Homo sapiens: one gene and its partner. The protein of the gene in region 1 purifies or fractionates together with the protein of each later gene. This does not show direct contact. Each region holds a gene or a part of one and is shown in the gene's direction. Other genes may lie near its edges.

Evidence for each region.
Region 2: the proteins of VPS4A (region 1) and ARL8B purify together in Homo sapiens (affinity purification with mass spectrometry; 2 studies listed by BioGRID and IntAct, with this or other methods). This does not show direct contact.

Annotation. Positions count from the first base shown.
Region 1 is NC_000016.10:69,314,325-69,318,239, forward strand, and holds part of VPS4A (vacuolar protein sorting-associated protein 4A), read left to right. Parts: intron 1-1,683; coding exon 1,684-1,795; intron 1,796-1,900; coding exon 1,901-2,048; intron 2,049-3,915. UniProt on the Homo sapiens protein: Involved in late steps of the endosomal multivesicular bodies (MVB) pathway. Recognizes membrane-associated ESCRT-III assemblies and catalyzes their disassembly, possibly in combination with membrane fission.
Region 2 is NC_000003.12:5,174,292-5,178,206, forward strand, and holds part of ARL8B (ADP-ribosylation factor-like protein 8B), read left to right. Parts: intron 1-52; coding exon 53-123; intron 124-3,915. UniProt on the Homo sapiens protein: Small GTPase which cycles between active GTP-bound and inactive GDP-bound states.

The DNA of each region.
Region 1 (3,915 bases):
TGCTGCTCCTTATGGGACAAAGAATACCTTCAGTATTGTTCTAAGGATAGACCCAAGCATGAAGCTACAGAGAGTGAAAAAGTCCAAGGTACTGGGGGTGTGTGTTCTGGAGACGAGAAGCCACCAGGGAGAGGAGCGCTGCCTTCCTGTCTCATCTGAAGGAACATCATGCAGAAGAGGGCAGACAAGGGCAGCCTGTGCCTAAGCTCATTTCCAAGAAGGTTTGGGGCTCCCAGCCATTCATTGTAGGTAGTAGAGGGAGCAGAGGCTTGAAAATAATGGCCAGCACTCACCCCTCTTCTCATCTCTTCAATCCGCTGAGTTCATTTCACATCAGCCTGGCCCAGCCTCCCCTGGCCTGTCTGTTTTGTCGAGCTGTCTGTGTGTGTTTCTTTCGGAGACTTCTTCCTTGCAGATAAGAGAGGGCTGAACAAATGCCCCGGCCCTGCCAAGAGCCGGTCAGGAGGTTTATTGTTTGCTGTGCCTGGAACCGTGGGTCTGCGGTGGGACTGCCTGCCTGGTAACTGGTGCCGGATCTGAGGAGGAGAATTCTGGTCATGCTTCGTGCAGGCGTTGGTGAAGCTGCGGTTTTTAAAACCAGGCTTTAAAACCATGTAGGTGCTTTACTGACCGGTCGCGGTGGCTCATTTCTGTAATCCCAGCACTTTGGAAGCCAAGGCGGGTGGATCACTTGATGTCAGGAGTTCGAGACCAGCCTGGCCAACATGGTGAAACTCTGTCTGCACTAAAAATACAAAAATTAGCCGGATGTAGTGGTGGGCATCTATCACTTGAACCCAGGAGGTGGAGGTTGCAGTGAGCCGAGATCGCGCCAGTGCACTCCGGCCTAGATGATAGAGTAAGACTCTGTCTCAAAAAATAATAATAATAAATAAAACCACGTAGGTGCTTTCAGTTCAGCCTAAGGCACTGGCCTACAGGATTTATGAGATTCCCAAAGACACTCATTCTCACAGAGCTCTTAGAAGGTTCCAGAGGGACACAGTTCTCTTCTGTTGGCAGCAGGGAGCAAGCAAGTACTTTTCTTACTGGAGCTACTGGTATGTGGAGCATTGTGTGTAAGCGTCCCTTCCCAGGGTGTCACTTTAGACAGCGAAGGAAACTGTCTTCTCTCTGCAGCCTGGAGAAGCAAGCTGCATGGAGCCAGGAGGAGGAGGAGAGAGGCCTTTCAGTGTATCCTGTGCAAACTTGCAGTCCGGGCAGGACTTTCCTTCTGGCTGGCTCTTCTCTGGCCCTGAGGCCGGGTGCAATTTCTGGTCTCCTTGCTAAACAAACCAGCAGTCACTTGCTCCCGCGTGTCCCTTCTGCCAGGCTCTCAGCTCGGGTCTGTTTCTCTTTCCCTTGAGGCAGCAGAATAGAAAGTCCCATGAACTTGCCCCTTGAGCCCTGACCTGAGATATTAGGTCAGGTTTCCACTTGCTGAAATCCAGAGCGTGGCTTTTAACCGTCTGAGCTTATTGTGAAGATGGCCGGCTGGTTTTCAAAGCCTTCTTTGAAGGCCTTTCTAGCCGATGTTGAAAAAGTAGGCCAATGAAATGGCCCGCAAGCAATAAATCCACAGGCCCAGCGGCATCCCTCGTCACGTTTCATCCCCATGCCTGTGACCCCAGGGACTTTCCACCTCTCCGAGGAAGCACTGAGCCATTTGCTTTGCCTTTCCAGAAAGCCATTGATCTGGTGACGAAAGCCACAGAGGAGGACAAAGCCAAGAACTACGAGGAGGCGCTGCGGCTGTACCAGCATGCGGTGGAGTACTTCCTCCACGCTATCAAGTGTGAGTCACACGAGGGGTCCTCAGGCTGCCGCACTCCAGAGGGGAGCGGAGGAGAGGGGGTGGCGCACGAGCCTCACAGGGGCCCCTCTGTGTTCCCTTTCACAGATGAGGCCCACAGCGACAAGGCCAAGGAGAGCATTCGAGCCAAGTGCGTGCAGTACCTAGACCGGGCCGAGAAGCTGAAGGATTATTTACGAAGCAAAGAGAAACACGGCAAGAAGCCAGTCAAAGAGAACCAGAGTGAGGGCAAGGGGTGAGTGTCTGCAGCGTCCGCCCAGGAACCTGGGCCCTCCTCACGGCTCCCTATCATTCCTGGCGCTCATGCTGCCTTGGACTTCCCTGTGGGAATGGTCCTCATAGTGCAGGGATGACAGTGCCAGCAGCTGCTTTCAGGGAGCATGGCCTGGAGCACTTCCATGTTCACCGTCTCATTGGATCTGACCCACAAGCCATGGGGAGAGGGGGAGCTTGGTGCAGATGGTAGAGCCTCTCAGGACGGGACCCCAGCTCTGTCACCTCCCAGCCTAGTGCCAGGACCCCGTGTGCCTACCATCTCCACATCTTGGAAGTGGGGAGGTCGTGGAACTCACCTCCGAGCGTTGCCACAGGGAGCAGTGAGATGACGTGGGCAGTGCCCTTGGAGCTTGGCACACGAGAGCATGCAATGAGTGCCAGCTGCTGTGACTGTCAAAGAGTCACCTGCCTCCAACAGGTGGGGCGGCCGGCTCGGGTTAGGAGCCCTGCCGAGGTGGCACAGGATGGAACTTGGACCCCCAAAGCAGGGCGGGTGGCCCCGATTCCCCAGCCAGGGTCCTCTCCACAGCCTCTCACCTCAGGTACTGGGTTCGCCCACCACGGTGATCCCAGTCATATGAACACAAATGCTGGTGGTATCTCGGAGGCGTGGGAGGGGAAGTGAGGGGGTCCCCCAGGCAGGAGAGGGGTGGGTGGTGTCAGCTGCCTCACCAGAGGCGAGGCCTCCTCCTGGATGGAGGGTCTGCACCACGTTCCCATCCGCAGAGGGAGAGGTCTGGCGAGGCAGGGGTGGAGGCCAGGGATCTCCAATAAGGATTAAATCAAGTTTTGAGGATGACAGATTCCATCCAGGGAGGAAGTAGCCCTGGGGTGACAGTGGCTGCGTTCTCCCCAGGAGTTCCCTTTCGATTTCGGTTTTGCTTTCTCCTCTGTCCTTCGGCAGTGGCTGCTTTGGAGTCAGGGGCACATGCTGTCCCTGAGTCTCTACAAAAAGCTTCTGGTGCGGGGCATGGTGGCTCACACCTGTAATCCCAGCACTTTGGGAGGCCAACGCGGGCAGATCACTTGAGGTCAGGATTTCAAAACCAGCCTGGCCAACATGGTGAATCCCGTCTCTATTAAAAATACAAAAAAATAGGCCGGGCGCGGTGGCTCACGCCTGTAATCCCAGCACTTTGGGAAGCCGAGGCGGGCGGATCACGAGGTCAGGAGATTGAGACCATCCTGGCTAACACGGTGAAACCCCGTCTCCACTAAAAATACAAAATATTAGCCGGGCGTGGTGGCGGGCACCTGTAGTCCCAGCTACTCAGGAGGCTGAGGCAGGAGAATGGCGTGAACCCGGGAGGCGGAGCTTGCAGTGAGCCGAGATCGAGCCACTACACTCCAGCCTGGGCGACTGAGTGCGACTCTGTCTTAAAAAAAAAATTAGCCAGGCATTGTGGCATGTGCCTGTAATCCCAGCTACTCGGGAGGCTGACGCCAGAGAATTCAGAGAATTACTTGAACCCGGGAGGCGGAGATTGCAGTGAGCTGAGATGGAGATTGTGCCATCGCACTCCAACCTGGGCACCATCTCAAAAAAAAAAAAAAAAAAAAAAGAAGCTTCTGGCAGCTGCATTGTTTGACTGGCTTTTTTTTTTTTTTTTCCCCCAGACAGGGCTTCACTGTCTCCCAGGCTGGAGTGCAGTGGTGCGATCTTGGTTAACTGCAACCTCTGCCTCCCAAGTAGCTGGCACCATAGGTGCGTGCCACCATGCTTGGCTAATTTTGTGTTTTTTGTAGAGACAAGATCTCGCTGTTTCCCAGGCTGGTCTCAAACTCCTGGGCTCAAGCGATCCTCCCGCCTCAGCCTCCCAGAGTGC
Region 2 (3,915 bases), on another chromosome or scaffold:
AAGTATGACAGCTGTTCTAAGCACAGACTTATCCTTTTAATTCTTCTCATAGGAATCTGTCTGCTATTCAGGATAGAGAAATTTGCTGCTATTCAATTTCTTGCAAAGAAAAGGATAATATAGGTAAGAAATGACTGGTAATTTTGGAAGAAATGGGTATCATTGGAAGGAATGTCTATGCTTCTTACAGCTTATTGTCTCGATTTCTCATTAAGTGACTTCCTTTTCAGAATACTGTTGCTTTTGCCTGAGAAAAAAGAATAGACATACCTTTTGACAACAAATATAGTGAACCTTCACTTAACATCATTGATGGCTTCTTTGAAATTGCAATGTTATCTCTCTCTCTCTCATACAAATATATATATAATATAATATATGTAATATGTATTATATATTATATGTAATATATATGTAATATGTATTATATATTATATGTAATATATATGTAATATATAATATATATAAATATATATTATATATAACATAAATATATATATATAAATAATATTATATGTATATGTATTTTTTGAGACAGTGTCACTCCTTCACCCAGGCTTGAGTGCAGTGGCGTGATCTCGACTTACTGCAACCTCTGCCTCCTGGGTTAAAGCGATTCTTGTGCCTCAGCCTCCTGAGTAGCTGGGACTACAGACGTGCACCACCACGCCCGGCTAATTTTTGTATTTTCAGTAGCGACAGGGTTTCCATGTTGCCCAAGCTGGTCTTGAACTCCTGACCTCAAATGATCCAACTGCCTCGGCCCCCCAAAGTGTTGGGATTACAGGTGTGAGCCCGGCCTATATGTTATCAAACTCTTGAACAGCAAAAAATTTTTTAAAAAGAGGAAATTGCACTTTTAAGCGAAATGACATACAGTAGGCCCTCATTTCGTTCAGCGTTACAATGTTAATGAGAAAAAAATAGTTTTGTTATACACCATTTCACTTAAAGTGGCAGTTTCCAAGAACCTATCAGTGATGTTAAGTGAGGACTGAATGTATAACATCCTGAATCTTCTTTGTGCTATTTAAAGAAGAAAATGCAATAAAGTCGTGAGGTTAAGATTATGTGATACCAATTTATTGTGTTAATTTTTGCAGAGCTAGTATCCCGCTGTGCTTTATAACAAAATGGCATTTTTGAAATAAGACTTTACAAAAATTAGTCTACAGGCACTACAACAATTTTTCAGTTATTGAACCAGTATATTACTGCAATATGTTAGCACTCTATTGGAATTATATGCCCAAAATACCCTTCATTTACTCAATGCCCATATTAACTTCTTAGAACTGCCATAACAAAGTACCACAAACAAGGTGGCTTAGAACAGCAGAAACTTAAGTCATTCAAAATTCTAGAGGCTGGAAGTCCAAAATCAAGTTGTCAGCAGGGTCGTGTTCTCTCTGAAGGCTGTAGAAGATCCCTCCTTGCCTCTCTCTAGCTTGTGGTGGTTGCCAGCAATCCTTGGCATTCCTTCACTTGTAGATATACCACTCCAGTCTCTGCCTCACATTCATGCTTCTCCCCTGTAGTTGTCTCTGTGTCAGTGTATTATGTTTTCCTAAGGACGCAAGTCACTGGATTAGGTAGGGCCCACCTAATCCAGTATGACCTTATCTTAACTAATAACTTGCAGAGACCCTATTTCCAGTAAAAGTCACATTCTGAGGTTCTGGATGGACATGACTTTTTAGGGGGACATTAAACATTCTAGCATAGTATGGTTACAGAATAAGTATGTATGGCTCAACTTTAGTTTCTTAACTAATTTGGTTTGAGATGATTTGATAAATGAATGTATTGGAACAAAATGTAATAAATAGTACCAGAATAGTATATCTATAAAGTTTATGCTGATATTTTTTCTTTAGCTTTTGTATTCCAGTCTATCCTTCCCTAACTCACCTTCCACCCCGCCTGCAAACATGGCTTTATTTATTTTTATTTTTTTAAGATGGAGTCTCACTCTGTCGCCGTGGCTGGAGTGCAGTGGCAAGATCTTAGCTCACAGCAACCTCCACTTCCCGGGTTCAAGTGATTCTTGTGCCTCAGCCTCCTGAGTAGCTGGGATTACAGTTGCCCACTACCACGCCTGGCTAATTTTTGTATTTTTAGTAGAGACAGGGTTTCATCATGTTGGCCATGCTGGTCTTGAACTCCTGACCTCAGGTGATGCACCTGCCTCAGCCTCCCAAAGTGCTTAGATTGACAGGCATGAGCCACCACGCCCAGCCACAAATATGCTTTATTCAGTTTAAAGTGTGGATAGTCGTTCTGGCTAATTTTGGGCTTCCTTTAAAGACCATCCAGGGCAGTCTCAGCCTTAGTAACAGCGGATAGACACAAATTTTCCTTTATAAATGGATAGAATAATTCACTTGTTACATTGGGAGCATTTATTTGAGAACAGACTCCTCAAGCACTTGTGGTTACTTAGACTTTATTTAAAAGTTTTTTCTCTATGTGGCGGGGAAAACTCTTTTTAAAATTTAAGATATGCCCCATGAGAGCATTTATTTCTACATCAGTGGTTCTCAATGGGGAGCTTTTCCCCCAGGAGACTTGACAATGTCTGGAGACATTTTTGGTTGTCATAACTAGGAGGGTGATGCTGGCATTTAGTGGGTAGATACCAGAAATGTAGCTAAACATACTATAACCTCCACAGCAAAGAATTATCCAGCATAAAATGTCAGTTGTGGCAAGGTTGAGAAATCCTGTTCTACACTAACCGTAATTTTTAGTCCATTGTGCTATTTTGTAAATCCATTACTCCCTACATGTTTTCTGTTTTTCCATTGTTACAAACTAGTTGGATACTTCCTGAAAAAAAAACAAAATCTCTTGGGCTCATATATGGAAGTGCAGTAGAGCTGTGAGGACTTCTTTCGCTATTTGAGGCTGATCTTTATAGTTGGCTAAATAGCTCAGTAGTAATTTTAGAACTCCTGGCTCACTTAAAAGGTTGTCAAGCCCAAGGAATCTGATCCAGTCTAATAAGATCCACTCTAATAAAATTCGAAATAAGTATTTTGTAGATCAGTTCATCTGAGTATCTTATTTCTGTTGTCTTTTTGCCTATTCATAAAGATCCATTTGTCTTTAGGATATGAACTTCTATCAGTATCCACAGAGGCTTTGTGTAATTTTTTAGTGAATTTCTTTTTTTTTTTTTTTGAGATGGAGTTTCACTCTTGTGGCCCAGCTGGAGTGCAGTGGCGCAATTTTGGCTCACTGCAACCTCCGCCTCCTGGGTTCAAGTGATCTCCTGCCTCAGCCTCCCGAGTAGCTGGGATTACAGGCGCCCGCTGCCGTGCTCGGCTAATTTTTGTATTTTTAGTAGAGATGGGGTTTCACCATGTTGGCCAGGCTGGTCTCAAACTGCTGACCTCAGGTGATCACCTGCCTCGGCCTCCCAAAGTGTGGGATTACAGGTGTGAGCCACCGTGCCCGGCCATGAATTTCTTAAATATTTAAATTTGGTTATTTCACTTCAGATTTACCTTTCTCCCATTCAGTTCCAATGAGTGTGGCTTTGCTCGTATTGTGCACTGTTGTCCCCATTTTAAGGTGCAGAGGTGCTTCTTCAGTAGTTGGGTTAAATCATTGCTTCCACAATGGTGAACAGTTCATGTTTGTTATAGCTCAGCCCTGTGGTGTTTCGTTAATGCATGTTAGCTGGGAAACTGGTAGTGAATTTACCCTCATCTTTCAGGCTTGGAGAATAGAGTGGTGCTTCTGATAGACTCTCATGTACCCTTCTGAAGAAGTGAGGACAAGAATTACCCAGCCCCAGATGTCAAAAGGGCATGGTGTGAACCCTGCACCAGCCTTGGCAGTGACAGCCTCCTCTCCCATCCCTGTGCTTTAGTCACATTGTATCACTCACAATCCATCCAGAGCTCCACA